2 linked regions of the Homo sapiens genome follow. The protein of the gene in region 1 purifies or fractionates together with the protein of each later gene. This does not show direct contact. Each region holds a gene or a part of one and is shown in the gene's direction. Other genes may lie near its edges.

Region 1 (7,093 bases):
CCGTCGCCCAGGCTGGAGTGCAATGGCGCGATCTTGGCTCACTGCAACCTCCGCCTCCTGGGTTCAAGTAATTCTCCTGCCTCAGCCTCCTGAGTAGCTGGGATTACAGGCGTGTGCCACCACGCCCAGCTAATTTTTTGGATCTTTAGTAGAGACGGGGTTTCACCATGTTAGCCAGGCTGGTCTCGAACTCCTGACCTCAAATGATCCTTCCAACTCGGCCTCCCAAAGTGCTGGGATTATAGGCATTAGCCACTGTGCCTGGCCCTGGATTGGTTATTGACCATACAGAATTCACTCTGAGTCCCAGCTGATTCTAATGGGTGGGGTTTTTTTGTTTGTTTTAATTTTAGTTTATTTTTCTTTTTTTTGGAGACAGGGTCTCACTCTGTTGCCTAGACTGAAGTGCAGTAGTGTGGGGATCCTCCTGCCACAGCCTCCTGAGTAGCTAGAACTACAGGTGTACACCCCCATGCCTGGCTAATTTTTTATTTTTTGCAGAGACTGTGATCTCACCATGTTGCCCAGGCTGGTCTCAAACTCCTGCCCCAAGTGTTGGGATTACAGGCACGTGAGCAAGCACACACGACCCTAATGGGTGTTTCCATACTTCCTCACTACATCCCCCACTCAGAGATTGATAATTTAAGCTTTTCAGTATCCCTACCAAATACTGATAGTAATTAAACCCTTCCTTGAACCCCTCGCAGATGGTATCTGTGAAAATAAAATAAGAAAATCAATGGGGAAGTGCTTTGAAAATTATGCATTGCTAAGTAAACTGAAGGGCCCTGGGATGTGTCTGCAGTGAGAGGGTTTGAACTCTGCATCTGGTAATGGGAGCTTTCGGAGACTGCTCTTCCTGCTGTGACCACCCTAAGTTGGGAGACAGAAATGTTTCAAGAATACAGGGAAGGTGAAGTTGCTATAGTGAATGGGGTGGTTAACAAAATAATATGTGCTGAAAATCTCTCAAAACAGAAAGGTCAAAATGCTTTCATTATTGAGTGCTTTAAAAATGATTTAAAAATAGTTATTCAAGGCTGGGCACGGTGGCTCACGCCTGTAATCCCAGCACTCTGGGAGGCCAAGGCAGGTGGATCATCTGAGGTTGGGAGTTTGAGACCAGCCTGACCAACATGTAAAACCCCGTCTCTACTAAAAATACAAAAAAAATTAGCCAGGTGTGGTGACACATGCCTGTAATCCTAGCTACTCGGGAGGCTGAGGCAAGAAAAGCGCTTGAACCTGGGAGGCGGAGGTTGCGGTGAGTCAAGATCGCGCCATTGCACTCCAGCCTGGGCAACAAGAGCAAAACTCCATCTCAAAAAAAAAAAAAAGTTATTAAAGCCAGGCGCAGTGGCTCACGCCTGTAATCCCAGCACTTTAGGAGGCTGAGGCAGGAGGACTGCTTGAGCCCAGGAGTTCAGACCAGCTTGGGCATCATAGCGAGACCTAGTCTCTACCCAAATAATAATAATAATAATAATAACAAAAAATTAGCTAGGTGTAGTGGTGCCAGCTGTGGTCCCAGCTACTCAGGAGGCTGAGGTGGTGGGATGATCCCTTGAGCCCAGGAGGTTTCAGGTTGCAGTAACAACTGTACTCCAGCCTGTGTAACAGAGCGTGACCCTGTCTCAAAAAAAACCAAAAAAGTCGCTCATTCATTCCTGTCTTACTAACGGATGTGGAAATGAGAAGTTCCATCTTTGCCTGGAGGAAGTGTAGAATACACAGAGCAGAGAATATACAATGATAGCTACCATTTCTTGAAGACCTACTGTGAGCCAGGGACAGTGTTAGGGGCTTTCTACATATTATCTTATTTAATACAAGCAATCATCTTGAAGGCAGGAATTGATATCTTCAACAATGAGTAATTAACTACCAGAGAGGTAAAGGGAGTTTGTCCAAGGTCACCCATATAAATGCAAGAGTCAAAATTAAAATCCACGTCTGCCTGAATGCCAAAGCTCAAGTACTCTCCAACACTAATAAGGTGAGAGTAATCCATTCACTGAAAAAAATATTTGAGTGCCTCAGGCCGGGCGCGGTGGCTCACACCTGTAATCCCAGCACTTTAGGAGGCCGAGGCAGGTGGATCACGAGGTCAGGAGATCGAGACCATCCTGACTAATACAGTGAAACCCCGTCTCTACTAAAAATACAAAAAAATTAGCCGAGCATGGTGGCGGGAGCCTGTAGTCCCAGCTACTCGGGAGGCTGAGGCAGAAGAATGGCGTGAACACAGGAGGCTGAGCTTGCAGTGAGCTGAGATCGTGCCACTGCACTGCAGCCTGGGCGACAGAGCAAGACTCTGCTTCAATAAATAAATAAATACATAAAAATAAAAAAACTGAGTGCCTCTTTTGTTCCAGACATTGTTCTGAGTGCTAGTGATATAAAAGTGAAAAAACAAAGTCCTTGTCTCATGGGGCTCATGCTGTAGTGGAGAAAGACAATAAAAATGTAGTATGTCAGATGGTGATAAATGCTGTGAAGGAAAATTAGGATGGGGTGCGTAGGATTACTATTTTAACCAGAATGGTCAGGGAAGACTCTGATCATGTGAAGTCTGAGCAGACGTACAAGACTTGGAAGAAACAGAACTGGCACAAAGAAGAACTTCCTCCTTTGCCTACCTATGGGTTCAGTTTGGAAAAGAGGGGGCGGGATGGGAGTGCAGGTGTTAATGGAAACTATATGCTCAAAATCAGAAGACCTGAGCATTACTTTACTCCAGGTGATTTACTGGCAAATCTTTTCACCTTTGAGCCTCAATTCCCTTCACTGTAGACGGGAATAACAGTTCTTGCCCAGCTTCTCACACACAGCTGCCATGAGGATCAGATGAGATGACCCACTTGAAAGCCCTTTAAAAATAACACAATCAGGGCCAGGCGCAGTGGCTCACGCCAGTAATCCCAGTACTTAGGGAGGCTGAGGCAGGTGGGTCGCTTGAGGTCAGGAGTTGGAGACCAGCCTGGCCAACATGGTGAAACCCCGTCTCTACTACTAAAAATACAAAAATTAGCCAAGCGTGGTGGTGCGTGCCTGTAATCCCAGCTACTCGGTAGGCTGAGGTGGGAGAATCGCTTGGACCAGGGAGACGGAGGTTGCAGTGAGCCGAGATGGCGCCACTGCACTCCAGTTTGGGCGGCAGAGTGAGATTCTGTCTCAAAAAAAAAAAAAAAAAAAAGACCGGAAGTCAACTCTTCAAATAAAATGTATTCCTATCTCAGGTGCAGTAGTTACCCTAAACATCTTTTTGAAAGGCCGCCCAGGCTGAAAAAAGAGATAGGCTAAACTAAATAAGCATAAGTTTCATAATATGCCTCTGCTGAAGATTCTTGGGTAATTTACACCAGTCAAAAATTGTGGGCCGGGCGCGGTGGCTCACGCTTGTAACCCCAGCATTTTGGGAGGCCGAGGCGGGCGGATCGCCTGAGGTCAGGAGTTAGAGACCAGCCTGGCCAACGTGGTGAAACCCCGTTTCCACTAAAAATACAAAAATTAGCTGGGCATGGTGGCGGGCGCCTGTAATCCCAGCTACTCGGGAGACTGAGGTAGGAGAATTGCTTGAACACAGGAGACGAAGGTTGCAGTGAGCCGAGATCGCGCCACGGCACTCCGGCCTGTGAGACAGAGCGAGACTCCGTCTCAAAAAAAAAAAAAAAAAAAAAGTGTGTCGTGTGCTTCAACTAAACTAGGAAAGAAGTCTTGGGATTCTAATCTTTAACTCTAATCGCCACGCCCCTTCACCCGAACTCTATTTCCCAATATGCCCCGGGCTTCTATAATCCCGCAGTCATTGTGACGCAATCCCACAGCCTTCTGGGAAACGTAGTTTATTTATTCTCCAGCTGGGGAAAGGCTTAGGGCTGTGGACTACCTCTCCCGTGAGGTAGTGCGCAACTCCACCCTGTTCGCGGCGTCTTCGAACGCGCCGCGGCAGCCATGTTGGACGTGGTCAGCACAGGGGCCGGCACCACGGGGTTATCGAAGCAGCTGTCAAGATGCTGGGGTCCCTGGTGTTGAGGAGAAAAGCACTGGCGCCACGGCTACTCCTCCGGCTGCTCAGGTCCCCAACGCTCCGGGGCCATGGAGGTGCTTCCGGCCGGAATGTGACTACTGGGAGTCTCGGGGAGCCGCAGTGGCTGAGGGTAGCCACCGGGGGGCGCCCTGGAACATCGCCGGCCTTGTTCTCCGGACGTGGGGCAGCCACCGGGGGGCGCCAGGGAGGACGCTTCGATACCAAATGCCTCGCGGCTGCCACTTGGGGACGCCTTCCTGGTCCCGAAGAAACACTCCCAGGACAGGACAGCTGGAACGGGGTCCCCAGCAGGGCCGGACTGGGCATGTGCGCCCTGGCCGCAGCGCTGGTGGTTCATTGCTACAGCAAGAGTCCGTCCAACAAGGGTGATTATGAGATCTGGGTTTGAGGAAGGGAGAGGCGGGAAGATTGTCCTAACTTCGTATCTTAGGAGGGTGGGAGGTACTTATAGGTTTAGATCCTTAGAGCCTAAGTCTTGGAGGGACTCAGACATCATCTGGTTACAGGGGCAGGGTGTTGCCCTAGAGACCTCATCACCTCGGAGTTGTATAATCTCGTACCATAGATCCGCTTCCCCTCTCTGGGCATCATTTTATCCATCTGTACAATGGGGATATTGGACTAAACATCTAATATTATAGCATGGTCCCCTTATGTTTCTCATATTCTGCCTGGTCCAATTCCTCTTTCCTGAGATCTCCAGGAAACGGAAATTATGGGGTGTTTTAAGGGCAACCGCCAGATGGTTTAGAGAAGTTGCCAAACCGCTCCCCCCTACCCCCCGCCACCAAAGGTGCCAGAGTCAGGAACAACCTGACTCGGTTCTAATGCCAGCTTGACCTCAATTTATTTATTTATTTATTTATTTATTTATTTATTTATTTATTTATTTATTTCTGAGATGGAGTCTTGCTCTGTCGCCAAGCTGGAGTGCAGTGGCGCAATCTCGGCCCACTGCAACCTCCGCCTCCCGGGTTCAAGCTATTCTCCTGCCTTAGCCTCCCAAGTAGCTGGGACTACAGGTGCGGGCCACCACACCCAGCTAATTTTTGTATTTTTAGTTGTTGGTCAGGATGGTCTCGATCTCTTGACCTCCTGATCCACCCGCCTTGGCCTCCCAAAGTACTGGGATTACAGGCGTGAGCCACCGCGTCTGACCAATTTCTTTATTTATATAGTGAAGGATAGTTTCCCAACATTTTTACAGTACTGTTATTTTGACTCTTTTTGGAGTTCAGCGGCCTGAGTCTGTCAGTCTCAGGATTTTGCTGTGTCTGGTCTCACATGCTGTGAGGTGATCTTGCCATGTGGGATAGTTGGCAGGAGAAGGAAGGTGGATTCCTGGAGGCCCAAGGGCAACTGCTGGGGGACTGGCTGATCCCGATTAGCATCTCATTTGGATCCGGGGAGCTAAGCAGCAGCTGAGAGAGTGGACAGAGAGCCAGACTGATGACCTATGTGAGTCCAGCCATTCAGGTTCTTAGTTGTTCCTCAAGAAGAAAGACTGAGGCATGGTGTCCATAGATTCCATGCACCCCAAGCTCTGAGAATTTGGAGCAAGAGTTGGGGAGTAGGGAGTGCCTTGACTTTGATTCGTTTGATGTGGCCAATTGTAAAGGAAGGACTTTGGTCTGGGAGAGACAACACTGGGGATCTTGTTTTGGTTCTGTGTCTAACTCTCATTGTGAATTTGGACTTTTGCTTCTCCTCACGGGTCCTCTGTTTCCTCATCTACAAAATGAGGGTTTTGAAATAGACACTAAGGGCATCGAGCTTAGGCATGTTGTAATCCTATAACTTCCAGCATTTTTGGGGGTACCCACTGTGTGTCTAGTTTTAGGCTAGGTGTGTGGGAAGTCCTAACTTAACACAAAATCAGTCAAGGGGACAGTGCAGGCAGTTGGAATGTAGGGCTGGTGAGTGGTGCTATGTGTCGTTGGGGGATCAGAGGGCCAGTAGGGTCAGGAAAGCCTTTCTGGAGTATTGGAGACCCCAGAGGATGGGAAATTTGAACTTGAGTTCTGAAGGATGAAGTAGAAACGGAAAGGGGAGTGATCTTTTGAGCCCCATGAGAGCAGGAAATGTATCTTCTCTTTTGTTTTTTCAGGTTATACTAGCAACTTTCCCGAATACCTAGACATCATTTGCCCACCACAGTGTCTGGAACTTAGTAGGTGCTCAGTAAATGTGTGAGAGTTGGATTATATTCCATGCAAAGGCTTCAGGGAATGGAAATAACAGTTTCGGGGCACCATGGTGTGTGCAGGGGCCAGCAGAGCAGCCAGCTTGGTTGGAGGATAAGGTCTTTGGAATTAGATGAGAGCAGATGGAGTGGGGCCTGGATGCCAGTCAGGGGTGGGGTAGGTGAGGGTGTTGGAATTTCTTCTGTAGGCAGTGGAGAGTTATGGAAGGTTCATGAGCAGGGAATGTTCTGAGTCCAGTGTATTTGGTGAGGTCTTGCCTAAGAAGTTCCTGGGGGTTCCCAACTGGACTTTATGGCCTATGAACTCCAGCAAGAATACCAGGGTCTATTTACCAAAATAGATAATGGTCAAAGCCGTGACCAGTTCCTGCTGGAACTGACTTGCCAGCTACCCTGTCCCCTGACTTAGAGTTTTGACCCTCAGTGCAGTGTGGTAGAAACTGAACCCTTTTAGAAGCCAGGAGGCCCTGGTTCTTAGCTCATTCCTCACTCTGTAACCTTGTAGAAGCCACATTTTTTTCTGCAGAGTGAAGGGAGAGTGGATATAGCCATCTCTAAGGAAGGCTTGATCCCCTCCCAGCTGGTGGCTGTCTGAGCCATGCTTGGGTATGTGCTTTAGGTACATCCGGTAAGGTAAGTAGAAAGGACCTGTCCCTGGAATCTAGGCCAGGAGGCATCAATGTCTGAACCACAGGACTGGCTTTCATATGCATGATAAGGTGTATTGTACAGATAAGGAAACTAAGGCTCAGGAGGTTAGATAGGTGGGCTAGGTTATACAGCAAATAAGCGACAGAGCTGGGCTAGACCCCAGGTCTGACTGTCTCCAGATCCTG
Region 2 (3,660 bases), on another chromosome or scaffold:
TGTCATGGTGGTGGGTTGTTGGGAAAACGTCCTCTGCTCATACTTCTGACATCAGTTGTGTGGGTATTTTCACACCAAACAATTCTTCAACTTCTGGAAACGAATTGGGTATCCAAGGATTCCATTCAGCATTGAACAGAATTGCCAGTGCTGACACTACAGGAGTTAGTACAGACCCCACAGATTAAGGGCTCAGTCCCATAAGACTGCCCCCACTTCAGATGCCAGTCACAACTTCCAGGGGCTGCCCATACTTCTGTTCCCTCAGCGCCTCTGCAGATGTGAGCATTCGCTAGCACAGCCCATGGAACTCAGAAGAGCACTTTACTTACTGTCATTGGTTTATTGTGAAGGATACCACTCAGGAAGAGCCAAATGGAAGAGACACATGGGCAAAGCCTGGGGAAGGGCTCAGAGCTTTCCCACCCTCCCTGGGTGCACCTTCCCAGCACCTCAGTGTGCTCACCAACCTGGAAACTCCCTGAGCCCCAAGAGCTGTTTAGGTGTCTTTGTGGAGGTTCCATTACATGGTTATGATTGATTAAATCATTGGTCATTGGTGATGGGGCTCAACCTCAGACCCCTTTCCCCTTCCTGAGGTCAGAGGCTGGGGCTGAGTGTTCCCGCCCTCTACTGACAGGATTGGTCTTTCTGGTGGCTGGCCTTATGCTGGGCTCTCAGGTCCCCACCTCAGCCACTGCAGTGGCATCAACTCAGGTGTGATGGAAAGGGGCATCTTATGATAGCACAAGATGCTTCTATCAGTCAGGAAATTCCCAGGGTTCTGTGAGCTCTGCGCCAGGAACTGGGCACAAAACCCAAATCTGAGTCTTGTATCACAGTCACCCAAAGGAAGTACTATCCTCAGCTCTTGCTAGCAGGTCAGGAGCCTGTTGTGTAGGAACTGTGTGCAGGCCTCCAGAGGTGGATAGATCTGAAATCGGAGTGGTCAGGGTTGGGACAGCTGCCCTAATTCACATCCTTCATTTGGAGATTGAAAGGAAAAACAGACTGGATGCATTGGCTCACCTCTGTAATCCCAGCACTTTGAGAGGCTCAGGCGGGAGGATTGCTTGAGGCCATCAGTTCAAGACCAACCCGGGAAACATAGCAAGACTCCCATCTCTACAAATAAAAAACAAAAAAATGAGCCAGCCATGGTGGCACACGCCTGTAATCCCAGCAGCTTGGGAGGATCTGAGGCGGGAGGATCATTTGAGCCCAGGAGATCAAGGCTGCAGTGAGCCATGATCGCACCACTGCACTGCAGCCTGGGGCCACAGAGCAAGACCCTGCCTCTTTAAAAAAAAAAAAAAAAGCAACCAAGATTCCCTCTTGATATCTGAAGGCAAAACATGGACCAATTTGTAGGACATTGTAAGTTGCAACTGGACGTAGCTAAGTGGGGAGAGGATGTCCACTTGGAGACAGTTAGTTACTCCAGGAGGTTGTGAGGCTACAGGCCCAGGGCAGAGAGCCAGGCCGTCCGACTGGGAGGATTGTACCTACATGCCCAGGACATGGGCAGATGGCCCCAGCTTGCCTGTGGCTGTGCCTGGGTGACCTTGGGCCTCTCTCTGCAGGGGACGTGACCTTGGACCCGGACACCGCCAACCCTGAGCTGATCCTGTCTGAAGACAGGCGGAGCGTGCAGCGGGGGGACCTACGGCAGGCCCTGCCGGACAGCCCAGAGCGCTTTGACCCCGGCCCCTGCGTGCTGGGCCAGGAGCGCTTCACCTCAGGCCGCCACTACTGGGAGGTGGAGGTTGGGGACCGCACCAGCTGGGCCCTGGGGGTGTGCAGGGAGAACGTGAACAGGAAGGAGAAGGGCGAGCTGTCCGCGGGCAACGGCTTCTGGATCCTGGTCTTCCTGGGGAGCTATTACAATTCCTCGGAACGGGCCTTGGCTCCACTCCGGGACCCACCCAGGCGCGTGGGGATCTTTCTGGACTACGAGGCTGGACATCTCTCTTTCTACAGTGCCACCGATGGGTCACTGCTATTCATCTTTCCCGAGATCCCCTTCTCGGGGACGCTGCGGCCCCTCTTCTCACCCCTGTCCAGCAGCCCGACCCCGATGACTATCTGCCGGCCGAAAGGTGGGTCCGGGGACACCCTGGCTCCCCAGTGACTCGGGCCCTCCTGGAGGAGTCCTGTTGCCTCTCCTGCCCCTCCAGGCCACTGAGTGTTTTGGCCACTTGGAGGACCTGGGAGGAGGGAGTGTGTCCTTTGAGCAAGAGGAGGAACTCCTGGTGCCTTTCTGAGCCTGCGTGGGAGAACCCCAATTCTAGCACTCCAGGAAACTGTGGGAGAGTGTGGGGCAGGCTCCGTCCTCCCTGGGAGACCCCTCCAGCCACCGGGTGCCACTTAATGCCAACAGCCCTTACCAAAGCTGGGAGCCCCATTGCCCCGGCAGCTCTGGCCTGTGGTTCCAGAAGCTGAGAAAACTCCACTGGGGCTTGCAGAATCCAGGGTTCACCTAAGCTGCACAGTTCCTGCAGCTTTGCCAGCCCCCTGAAAGTCTTGTGTACCCCACCTCTGAAGATGCTGGGGGAGGCAGCTGGGATGGGAGCCAGCCCCATGCCTGTCTGTGACCCCACAGTGGGTGAGAGCCCGTCACAGTCCTGGGTGTGGCTGCTCTGGAAGAATTAGGAGGCAGCCATAATAAGAGTCTTCAGAGAGATGATGGGAGGGGCCAGTGAGGACAGGAACAGAGAGTAGATGTCCTATAATAAAGGGGCTTCTGGGAGGTGCCTGGGCACAGATGTCTGTTCAGCAGGTGTGTGGGCCTAGAGGAGAGAGCAGAGCCCAGAAATGTCTTTTGCAGGCCCACGTTCTGACTTGAAGCTTTCGTGGGCATGTTGCCATTGGGTTTTGCCCTTGCAAAGGCTTCCTAGGTCTCCAGTGGCCCCTCAGGACCCAGGGTCCCAGCTGCTGCTTGGGGATGTGCACTGCTGGCCGCCGGCCTTGCAGTCTCTCTACCCTGGGGAGGAACAGTGGCTTCTCAGAGCCTGGGGCATACAGAAGAAGGCAGGAGTTGATTTTTGTGTTGGGTTTGGGGTTTCTTTGTCCTCAAGGTACTGTTCTGTTTCTCTTTACCCCTCTGCTTTATTTATTGTAAGCATTCCCACGTTAAATAAACTTTGGCTGTTGTCTACAAGTCATCCTGCTGGTGCCTGCTTAGTCCAGGAACAATAGCGGGTGCCCCACTGCCCAGCAGAGGGCAGAGCCCCAGGGAGGCTGTTGACGGGGCAGGCGGGAAGCTCAGGCAAAGTAAGGGCCGGGACGGGCAGCCACTTCCCACACCCAGGCACAGATGGGCTCTCCACTTTCTGTGCTCAATATATATGTTCCTTATGTGGAGCTATTGCCGGAATGTTTTTTTCGAGATATCCTGGTAAATGTTTCCTGCATTCCATTGTGCTTAACGAGTAGTCTCCTGATTATCATTTATTCAGTCACTCTCCCATTCTTGTCTTTTTTTTGGCAGGGGCCTGGGGGGGCATTATGTAATACCATGTTGAACAAGATCAGCAGTTTCATTCAGCTGCAACAAAGAGAAGTCTGAGTGGAAACCAGGGGACTGGGCATTTCTCTGTGTTGGGGTGGGGTTTTTGTTTGTTTGTTTGTTGTTTTTTGAGACAGGGTCACCCATGCTGG

What was found. The genes of interacting proteins can lie anywhere in the genome.
Region 2: the proteins of CLPB (region 1) and TRIM11 purify together in Homo sapiens (co-immunoprecipitation; 3 studies listed by BioGRID and IntAct, with this or other methods). This does not show direct contact.

The regions. Positions count from the first base shown.
Region 1 is NC_000011.10:72,431,398-72,438,490, reverse strand, and holds the start of CLPB (mitochondrial disaggregase), read left to right. Parts: upstream 1-3,959; 5' UTR 3,960-4,016; coding exon 4,017-4,419; intron 4,420-7,093. UniProt on the Homo sapiens protein: Functions as a regulatory ATPase and participates in secretion/protein trafficking process. Has ATP-dependent protein disaggregase activity and is required to maintain the solubility of key mitochondrial proteins.
Region 2 is NC_000001.11:228,393,176-228,396,835, reverse strand, and holds the end of TRIM11 (E3 ubiquitin-protein ligase TRIM11), read left to right. Parts: exon of another isoform or gene 1-93; intron 94-1,029; exon of another isoform or gene 1,030-1,125; intron 1,126-1,583; coding exon 1,584-2,131; 3' UTR 2,132-3,160; downstream 3,161-3,660.